2 separate regions of the Homo sapiens genome follow, and region 1 is linked to region 2. A link means that fine-mapping ties the variant in region 2 to the expression of a gene that starts in the linked region. Tissue or cell type: thyroid. Region 2 holds a variant in brackets; the other region holds the start of a gene. All regions are shown on one strand. Distances are from middle to middle.

Region 1 (5,145 bases), 47 kb before region 2:
TGCTCTGCTCCTGTGGCTCTTGCCCAGGAGGGCGCGGCTGCTGAGCTTAGGTCTAAAAATAAGGTATCTGGGAGGAACGGCTTTAATTTGCACTTTACCTATTGGTGTTTACTTTGCTATTTCCAATACGGTAATTTAATTCTGCAGGGTGCCTGACTGGGGGGCACCTGAGGCGTGCGGTTACCTGACCGCACCAGGAGTGACTCTTGTGTCCCTGTGCGGCTCTGACAGAGAAGCCGCAGGGACAGTGGTGGTCTTTGGAGTTCACAGGTATGGGCATGGCATACAGGGGCAGGAATGGGCATCAAGACCCCACCATGCCCAGATCCACCATCCTCTCTTCTTCATTCAAACCCTTGCCCTGATGGCAGAGCAAGGATCCCCTTCTGCCACATGTCCCTGCCTGCTGCTTGTCCCCACGTCTCTTCCTGCCCATGGCCAGGGGCTCCATCTCTGCTGAGATGCCTCCCTCTCACCGCCAGCGATGAAGGAACTCTCTCTAGGTTTCTCTGTTGGACATACAGCTATTTACACTACAGCGTTGATGTCTTCCACCCTCCCACCACTAGTAGCTTGCTTTGTTTTAGTTTTATATTTTGTCTTTTCTTGGAGATGTGGGCTCACAGAAGCAGGGCTATGTCTCTCTCTCTCAGACTGGGAGTCCCTGAAAGCAGGGCTGTGTTCCACTCTCAGACTGGGGTTCCCTCAGGACAGGCTGCACCCCCCGCCTCAGATTAGGGGCTCCCCAAAGGAGAGAATATGTTTCTCTCTCAAATTAGGGGTCTCTAAGGTATGGCACTATGTGCCCTTTGGCCTCAGGCCTACCCAAGGGCAGGGCCTCAAAATCTCTTATTTGTTGTGTCTCTGCTGCCATCACCCATGTCTCTCCTTCCTGCCACCCCCCAGCCCCACATCCCAGGATGGCTTTACACCCCTCTGGTCAGGGCTGTGTCTATTAAAGCCACCAAGAGTGCATTTTGTCCTGCTCCTCCCTGGCCAGCAGAAGTGGCTGACAGGACCACATTAGGACTTGGTGGGCCATAAGCATTTTTTGTTGTCATGGACCCCTTTTTCCATTAAAAAAGTAAAAAGTTACATTTTACAGTTGTGTTGGGATAAAGGTAAATATATTCACATTATATATGAAAACATTTCTGTTGACTTAGAAGATCATTTCTTCCCTCTGATTTTAAAACAACTCAGAATACTTTGTGGGCTCCTAGGAGTACCATGGGCTGGGGCTGAGCCTGGTGTGTCTGGTGGAGAAGCCGCCCTGATGGCTAGGGCTCCAGCTGGGCCTGGCTGCAGGAGTCCGCATTGAGCCTCAGCATTGCTGGCGGGGATGCCTTTCCCATCCTTTAGCTTTGTTGTTGTTTTGTTTTGTTTTGTTTTGAGACAGAGTCTCACTCTGTCGTCCAGGCTGGAGTGCAGTGGAGTGATCTCAGGAGGCTCGCTGCAACCTCTGCCCCCTGGGTTCAAGCGATTCTCCTGCCTCAGCCTCCTGAGTAGCTAGGATTACAGGCGTGCACCACCATGCCCGGGTAATTTTTTGTATTTTTAGTAGAGACGGGTTTTCACCATGTTGGCCAGGCTGGTCTCGAACTCCTGACCTCAGGCGATCCACCCGCCTCAGGCTCCCAAAGTGCTGGGATTACCATCCTTTAGCTTTTATAAGCCTCATACTGTCCCCGTGAGTTGGGCAAGGCCAGAATTCTCATCCCACGCCAGCCATTGACACTACCACTGCTGTGGATATGGCCATGGCCATGGCTGGGACGGGGACCTCCTCAGCTGCTCCTTTGCCCATATCAGGCGCTGTGTTAGGCACATGGCCACCTTAATCTTATTGAACCCTCACACCAGCCTCTGGGGCAGGCACTGTGCTTATTTCCCATTTCACAGATAAGGAAATCGAGGCTCAGAGGGAAGAAATGATGGGCTGAAGGCCACCTAGCCAGTCGGTGAGAGGGTGGAGACAGAGGACACAGGGGCCCCGGCTTCAGGAAGTCTAGGTCTTTCCACCCTAGAGACAGTGAAGGGCCAGGCAAGAGGTAGGTGGGGGTCGGTGGAAGAAATTGGTTGTGATGTCTCAGGACACAGTAGCAGGAAGGTGCCTTAGAGAGCTTGCATGGAAGGAACGGGCCTTCCTGCCCTGCCCCCATTCCCCTGGTTTCCAGCCCGGAGGGTTTTCAGGGCTAATGGAGGGGAAGGGCACAGACTTCACTCCTCTGTGGAGAGAGACACAGGGATTCCTGACCAAGCTGCCATGGATCCTTCCCTCCTCCAGGTCTGCTAACTCCAGGCCCTCCCTGTCCAGCCACGTTGTCTGGAGGCCACCTGGCAGTCTCATCTGGGTTGGGAGGCGTGGGGTCTCAGAGCGGGAGGAGAGAACCTCGTGGTGGGGGGAGCTAGCAGTGAGGGAGTGGGCTGTGGGGAGTCTGGGTCCCACCCCCGGGACTCTGTCAGTGGCAGGGTAGGGGTACCCAGAGCCATGGCAGGAACCACCCCCTGCCCGCCCCCGACTAGAGGCTCAGCTTCCCTGCGTGCACCTAGCTCAGGAAGCCTTCCTTTCTAGTCTCTACAGCTGTTTCCCTCTTTTCCCATCTCATTCTTCCCTCTTCATTTCTGGCCTATCTTTTAACATCTCCATCCCTTTGATGCCTCATCCATCTCCTCTTCACCGTCTTGTCTTTGCCTGTTCCCTTTTCTGCTTCTCTGCTCCTCTTAAGGCTGGGTTTTCCTCCTGCGTCTCCTCTGTGCGCCTGTGAGTGTCCCCTGTCTGCTCATCCTCTCTCCCTCTGTCCACCTGTTTCTCTTTCTTCCAGCGTTTCTCCATCTCACGCGCTGCCTCTGTCATTTTCTCTCTTTCTTCGTCTTTCTCTCTCTCTCATTGTTCTGAGACATAGCAGTGCCTGGCCCAGCGGGGACAACATGTTTCACAGACAAATCATCCAACAAAAGAGAGGAGGAACGTGCTTCAGGTGAGCGTGAGCGCCGGCCCTGCTGTGTGCTGTGTGCGCATGGTGGGGGGAGGCTGGGGTGGGGGGGGCGGCAGGAGGCCAGTCAGGTGCGGGCGCCCAGGGCCGGGCGGGAGGGGCTCACGGGAAAGGGCTTTTGTGCAGACCAGGCTCTGGGTGGCTTTCAAGCAGCACATCTTTCTTCCAAAGCCAAACCTTTGATCCCCAGAGACATCAAAAGAGCCATCTGCATTTGTGTTTCCTCCAGGTAGAGGAGCAGGGGAGGGGCGAGGAGAGAAAAGGGGAGGGTGGCAGGCATGGCGGAGGGGGTGCTGAGAGGGGCCGCGCCTGGCCTCTTGAACCTGCATTTCAGGGAAAAGCCCCTGTCCGGAACCCACTGCTGCGCCTTCTTGGCTGGGGGACTCCTCTGCCGACTAAATGACTAACTGGGCTATCTTCAATATCAAATGAGAGGACGTGTTCTAATGAAAAAGCCCTGTAAAGAGACAGGGGGTTTGGTGTGGGTCAGGAGCAGCTGGTGCCCTCTCTAAGTGACCCCATGGGGCTTGCTTTAAAAAGCCTTCTGGGCTAGGCGCGGTGGCTCACGCCTGTAATCCCAACACTGGGAGGCTGAGGCGGGCAGACCACGAGGTCAGGAGTTCGAGACCAGCCTGGCCAACATAGTGAAACCCTGTCTCTACTAAAAATACAAAAAAATTAGCCGGGCGTGGTGGCAGGCGCCTGTAATTCCAGCTACTCGGGAGGCTGAGGCAGGAGAATCACTTGAACATGGGAGGTGGAGGTTGCAGTAAGCCGAGATCGTGCCATTGCACTCCAGCCTGGGTGACAATTGTGAAACTCTTGTCTCAAAAAAAAAAAAAAAAAGAAGAAAAGAAAAAAAGCCTCATTTCCCTGTGTTGATTCATCCCTCCAGGAAGCCTCCTACAGTAGTCAGGTTTCTCTCCCATTACTGAATCTTTTCGGCTCCTATGGGTTCAGCTCTCCCGCCTTGTCGGAATGGGGTGCTGGTCATTTCCATGGCCCCAGCAGACCAGAAGGTGGCTAAGGGAAAGATCACATCTTTGTTTTCTCTTTTGGCCCCAGGGCCTGGCCCAGGTGGGGTGAACCAGATGTCCTTGATCATAATAATACTCTCCTGTAGTCATGAGGAGCCGCTGATTTCAAACCACTTTAGCAGACACCCTAGCATTTGCTCCTCACCCTGCCCAGTGAGGAAGGCAGGGCATAGATTCACATCCCCATTTTATAGTCAAAGAAACTTGAGTTTCAAAGAGGTCAAGTAACTTGTCCAAGATCAGTTAGCAAGTGAGACTGGTAAGAAGCCCAGGAGTCAGTCTGTCATTTTCATTTTACAGATGGGGAAATTGAGGCAGAGCGTAACAGAAACACAGGTTATTAGAGACCAGGTCCAGATTAAAGCCTAAGATTCTAGACTTTTTCTTCCAAACCGTAGTGACTGGACTACCCTCCCAGCCTCCACGTGGTAGACGCATATCTGGGGGACAGCTGGCTCTCAGAGAACGTTCAGAAGATCCAGGGCTATGCTGGGGTGGGCGTGGGGGCTTCCAGTCAATTTTCTGGGTTAGAACTCATGCTATAGGAATTCCAGATGTACCCTCATGGCCCTGACCAGGGGACAGGCGATTGGTCCTGCTCGCAGGTGACGTGAGGCAGAGAGAGGGGCTGGATCAGGACACTGCTATCTATTTCTCTCCCTGATTTTCATACCGGGCTGAGTGCATGGCTCTGCCTTTGGCTTCCAGGAATGGAGAGCAGCAAAAGGCAAGGACAGCAGCTGGTTCCATGGGAGCTCCCCATAGGCCACCCAGGCCCAGCGTCGCCTTTGTTTTAGACAACAAAGAGTGTCTCATGTGGTCTCCAGACTGACGGCAAGGTGCGGACCTCTGTTCAGGCACCTCAGCTTCCAAGACTGAGTTCTGAGTCAGAATCCTCCAGAGTCCTTGGTCTGGGGCTTCCACCCCACTCAGCCCCAGGACTTCCAGGATTAGTGTCCTTGCCTGAGTTCTGTGTTTTGTCTACCAAATACCCCACGTTTATTAAGCACTGATCTATTTCCCCATTTTATTAATGAGGGATGACTGTTCCTGAGATAATCAGTGTTTCCAGTGTATTGCACTGAGAAAATACCAGCTAAGGCCAGAGGTTT
Region 2 (5,312 bases):
TTGACAGTCCCCAGAGGGAAATGATCGTGCCTTTGAATTTTCATTTATTCATTCGTTGATTCCACCATTCATCTGCTACTGAGCATCTTCTGTATGCTGGGCATTGCTGGGAACAGCATGAGGGCCCATGGGGGAGGCAGTGTTTCTGATGGGCAGACCACTCTTTTGGCCCCTTTTGTGGAGACAGGCCAAGCTTGAGGTAGAGACTGCAGTTGTGGGGGACAGGCAGCCACAGATCCTTCCCATTTGAACGGGGCAGTGGTTAGCAGCTGGAGGGCATTTGAGGTGCAGCCTGGGGCAAGTAGAGGAAAGCCAGACCCTTTGGGAGGCTTCCCAGGGCCAGACCACACGAGGCAGGCAGAAGGAGGTCCACAAGGGCAAGGGAGGCGCCAGAATGGGAGGGCTGTGTCTCAGATATAGTAGGAAGACCCAAGTTCAGTCCACAGACAAACTTGAGGGATCCTAGTGTCCCACTCATTAGAACAGGGAGCCTCATTGTCAGGACTTTCTGGAGCCTTGATTTGCACATGTCCTCCCCACCCTGGGGTAGATGTGTGTGCCTATTTGCATAAAGCATGTTCCTACCCAAATTCATCTCAGGCATTGTGACTTATATCTTTGCTTTCTCTCCTCACAGCTGGCTGTCCCCATGCCTTCTGCTCCCGCTTCTGGAAGGGAAGACAGGGCAGGGACCATGTCCAGCTGCAGAAAATCCCAGTGTTTTTCTGTGGCATTGCCTGGTAAAGGCTGAACGTGGCTTTCGTGAGAGCTAATCTGCCTGCCCAACCAGATTGTGCTGTGGCTAAAATTGCTGTGAGCTCGACAGTGCCTGAAGACTGGAGAAAACTGAGCCATGTCTTGGATGCTCTTGCGGGGCCTAGGGGAGTGCCAGGCCAGAAGGAGAACTGCCTGTGGACTCTCAGTAGGAAAGCAGCTAACGAGGTGATGAGTGAGTGTCGCCTGGAAGTCTGGGGGCCATTCCATGTGGGTCACATCGCCTGACCAGAGGGTTGGGTGCCTGGACAGGGCTGAGCTTGGGACTCCTTCCAGGGCCTGGCCTCAGCTGCTGGGCCTGCCGAGCATGCCCCACAAGCACCCACGCACACATACAAGTATGGAGGCAGAGTGGAAGTTTGACTTTTGCAGATCTCGTACAGCCTGGAGTAGAGAAGAGAATTGGGAACTCTCAATGTTGTGTGACCCTAGGCAAGTCCCTTCCCTGCCTTGTGCCTCAGTTTCCCTTTACATACCATGAGGATGTTCCCAGTGTTGGTGTTTTAATGCCTGCAGACAAGCTAAGCTCATCATCTGGTTCCCGGAAGAGATCCTCCTTTTGTGGAAAGGCCACAGCCACTCTGCCACCCTGAGGCTCCCACTCCTCCTTCTCTGGAACCCTCTCCCTTGCCTGTAGGTCACGGGAATGTCAAGAGCACCCAGGGAAGTGCCTGCTGCCAGTCATCACTCACTGATTATGTGACAGCAGAGGAGCCAAGAAGCTGCTGGGAATCGAGACACCCCCCCATTCAGTCCCCACCATCTCTGTCTTCATGAGGTTCCCTGGGAGAAGCTCCTATGTCTGGGAATGGAAATGTCTCCACCTGGATAGGGACAAACAGGAGCTGGGGGCTGCATCTTAAGACTTCTTGTCCCATTAGTGCTGACCTCTGGAGACGGCTCCTGAATTGTGCCCACTCCCCCACCTCCTCACCACACACATGCTCTGGGCCGTGCGAGGCTCAGCTTGTCACGGACAAGCTAAAATGAGGTGGCCTGAATGCCCCTTATCATAGACAGCTTATCTCCTGTGGTCACTCACCTGACAGACTCCAGAGAGCCACTCAGCGGGCCTCTCCCAGCCGCCTGCTTCTCAGCTCTGACTCTCCCTTGCCTTAAGGGGACACTGGATTCCAGTGACCCTCCTATTGGTCAGAGTTGGGCTGAGCACAGAGAAGGGGTAGAATGCTCCTGGGAACTCGGAAAGCTCTGGGATGCCAGCTTTTCCCACATGTTCTCACTCACCCCTCTGTAATACAGATTCTGCAGCCCTGCCCCCCACACACACACTCCTACACCTCTGCTCTCAAAGTGAAGAAGTAGGCTAATATCTGTGGTACATTTATTTACCTACTCCCTGAGACTGCAGCTCCCTTAGTCAGTGTTGTGTCCTCCACTCAGGCTGGGGCTCCCTGAGGATGGGGCTGTGTCTCCCCTCAGACTGGGGTTCCCCAAGGACAGGGCTGTGTCTCTCCTTAGGCTGGGGTCCCTGAGGGTGGGGCTGTGTCTCCCTGCAGATTGGGGCTCCCTGAGGATGGGGCTGTGTCTCCCTGAAGACTGGGGCTCCCTGAGGACAGGGCTGTGTCTCCCCTCAGGCTGGGGCTCCTTGAGGATGGGACACTTTAAAGAAGAGAAATTGACAGGTTGACCCTGGGGGATCTTTGGGTCAATAAAACATTCTATAGACCCTCAGTGGTCAGACTAGGATGATACCTTGATGATAGGTGGTTTTTTTGTTTGCTTGTGTGTGTGTGGTTTTGTTTTGTTGTTGTTTTGTCGTGTTTTGTTTTGCTGCTGTAGGTTTTTTAAAATCTGGAGGTTTGGTTGTTCATGAAGATAGGATGAAAAAGAAAGGAAAAAAGGAGGAAGGGAGATAAAGAAGGATGGAAGGAAGGAAGAGAGTGAGTGAGGGTTGGAAGAAGCAAAAGAAAGAAGAGAAAGGGAAAGACACAGAAAGAACGGTGAGAGAGAAAGCTCACAATCTGTTTTTCTTTTACATCTCCTGCAGGGGAGTTTA[C/T]TTGTTTTAAATCCTCTTATCTCCAACACTTGTTTCTCCACTGGTTGCCGTGTCTGTGGAGCGAGGCTGGTTTTTCTCTCAGCGACAACAGAATGCCAGGCTCCATAGCCGGCCTGGGCGCAGGAGGAGGAAGGGTTCACACTGACGGCCCCGGGGGCCTCTCCAGGCCCTTTCCCATCCATCCTCTCCTCAGTGGCAGCTCTCACCTGGCCCTAGACCCTCATGACCCAGAACAGGGGACATGGCTGTCCAGCTTGTGTGGTAGGCTCTGGCCAGCTCGGTCTCCTTCCAGCCTTCCTCTCCCCAAGACCCCTCTCCTCAAGAGCCTGCCCGAAGCCCTGGTGGACGTGGGCCCAGCCAGAGGCCTCCCTGCCTTCACCTCAGCTCCCGCCACTTCCCCTCCTGTGTGGGGGCCTCCCCTGGGGCCACCTCTTCCCAGAGCTTCTCTTGATGCCCTGCTCCCCCGACTCCCTTGTTCATGCGTCCATCCTTTCAACACATATTTTCGTGTCCCTGAGACGTGCCAGGCCTAAGACATAAAGGGCCTAGGGACCTCAGTGTCCAGTGGAGGAAACCAGATGTCGACAGTCAATTAAGCCCCTTTCAGGCGAGTTTCAACTTACCCTGGTCTAACAATAATATCTAACACTGACTGCAGGGGTTATGATGTACCAGGCACCATTCTAAGTGTTTCACGTGGAGTAACTTATTTCATTCTCCAAACAGCTCTAGCAGGTAGGGCTGTTACCCTCCCGCCTCGCAGAGGGTGGCACCTGGGCATGGAGCCGTTCATAACTTCTGAGGGTCAGACCTGAATACAAACCCAGATGGTCTGGGCCAGGGGCTGAACTCTTAAACCCAGTGCTGCTCACCTCATAGCCTAGCGACTGGGGTGTTTCTCTACGCCCCCTCAGGCCCACCCCCTGCCCCTTGCCCCACCAGAGGGCCCCGGACAGTCTTGCTGCACACCAGCTCCCTGCCCGGGCGGAGCTGGCCATCTTGGAGAGAAGTGACTTGGATTCCCGCCCTGCCTATCCCAGCGCTCTTGAGCGTGGCCTGATGCCTGTGGCCCCTCTCTCTATGGAGACTGGGCATCTCCCAGGCCAGACTGGCAGCCTCTGGCAGGCAGGGCCCGAAACCTCCTCAGCATTGGGCACTGAATGGGTCCAGCACCCGACTCCTGGAGCTGGCAGCTCCCAGACCAGGAGGGGAAGTGGGCGCTGGGGGTTGGCAGGCGGCCAACGCTAGGGGAGGCCTGAGCAGGGTTATGCCTGTAATAACCATGAACCAGGAGGGAGCTGCCAACCCCCAAGGCCTCCCCTGCCCCCTCTGAGGAAATTTTTCTTCAGTCAAGCAAATATCCTGCTGGTCAGTCTCAAGCCTCAGTTTCCTCAAGGCCCAGAGAGGCTAGTAAGAAACAGCCCTCATCTCAGGGATTGTTTGGGGATTTGACCCTGATGGGCCTTGGAAGCTCAAGTTATGCCCCTCCCTAGGGGTCCTAAGCACGGCTCAGAAGTGATGGGAGATGTCTAAGATCTGAGACATAGGAAGGCAGGAAGAAGCTGAATATATAGAAAGAAAGTAATTAGGGACAAATATGGTGCATTTGCACACTCAGTGTATGTTGAGCACCTATGGTGTGCCTGGCACTGTGCTGGCCCTGGGTGTACAATGTCAGGCATAGCACGGCCCCAGCCTTCCAAGAGCTCCCAAAGCTGGTTGTAGCCCATATGTCCCAAAATCCAAGTGGGGAAGGGGAAGCTGGGGTGGAATGACATGTTCCCAGGTCAGCTCAGGTCACAGCAGAGGCAGGGCCAGATGACGAGGCCTGTGTCCCAGGCCTTAGGCCCCTGATGCCCTCATCTCCTGGCCCAGAGCACCAGGACCACAGCATCTAGTCCCTATCCAAGTCTGAATAATAACCACAGATGTGAGAGCCAGCCCTGAAGTTAACCAGGGAGGGAGGCACCTCTCGGGAGACAGTTCAGGTCTGACGTTTATGTCTGAGGCTGACAGGTCTGACCTGTGCCTTTCTGACTCTACTCAGCAAGAGCAAGCATTGGTGAGATGAGTGCTCCTCGGGCACCAGTTCTGGTCTTCATTGTGTTGGGACCACGATTCAGGGTCTTACGGGGACAGGGGATGGAGGGAGCTTCACCATGGAGGCTCCTCACACCTCATGAGCCTCCCCTATCGGCCTCAAAGCCCTTCTGTGGCAGGTAGGAAAGGGAGAAACTTCCGGAGCCGATGCCAAAGCTGATGGTCTCCCCTGTCCCGGGGCCAAACAGCCTGAAGAGGAAGAGACAGAGCTGGGAAAAGGTGGGACCAGCTAGGGTGAGACCTTCTCAGACCAAGATCATCCTGTCTCTCTGGTTGCCAAGATCTAACAGGCCACCCCTGAGCCCAGGGCTCCCTCTCAGGCCTGCAGCCCTGCCCCTGGAGTGTGTGTGGATGTAGGTGCTTATATGCATGAACATCTGCCTGCCCATTCACCCCTCCGTGTGTGTGTGTATGTGTGTGT

Evidence for each region. PIP is the estimated chance that this variant, and not a neighbour inherited with it, causes the effect.
Region 1: LINC01512 starts here. The variant in region 2 is fine-mapped to the expression of LINC01512 in thyroid (GTEx, PIP above 0.99).

Annotation. Positions count from the first base shown.
Region 1 is chr6:43,888,485-43,893,629 of GRCh38, forward strand. It overlaps LINC01512 (long intergenic non-protein coding RNA 1512), which reads left to right and starts at 2,544. Exons shown (of 2, transcript NR_024478.1): 1 at 2,544-2,981. The region is part of intron 2 of LOC105375070 (a long non-coding RNA gene); the gene reads left to right. RefSeq lists an enhancer at 1,003-1,964.
Region 2 is chr6:43,935,727-43,941,038 of GRCh38, forward strand. LINC01512 (long intergenic non-protein coding RNA 1512) reads left to right here. Exons shown (of 2, transcript NR_024478.1): 2 at 638-2,481. Among named protein-coding and RNA genes, the nearest start is that of LINC01512, 47 kb to the left of the region's middle. The variant C/T (reference allele first, on the strand shown) is at 2,792.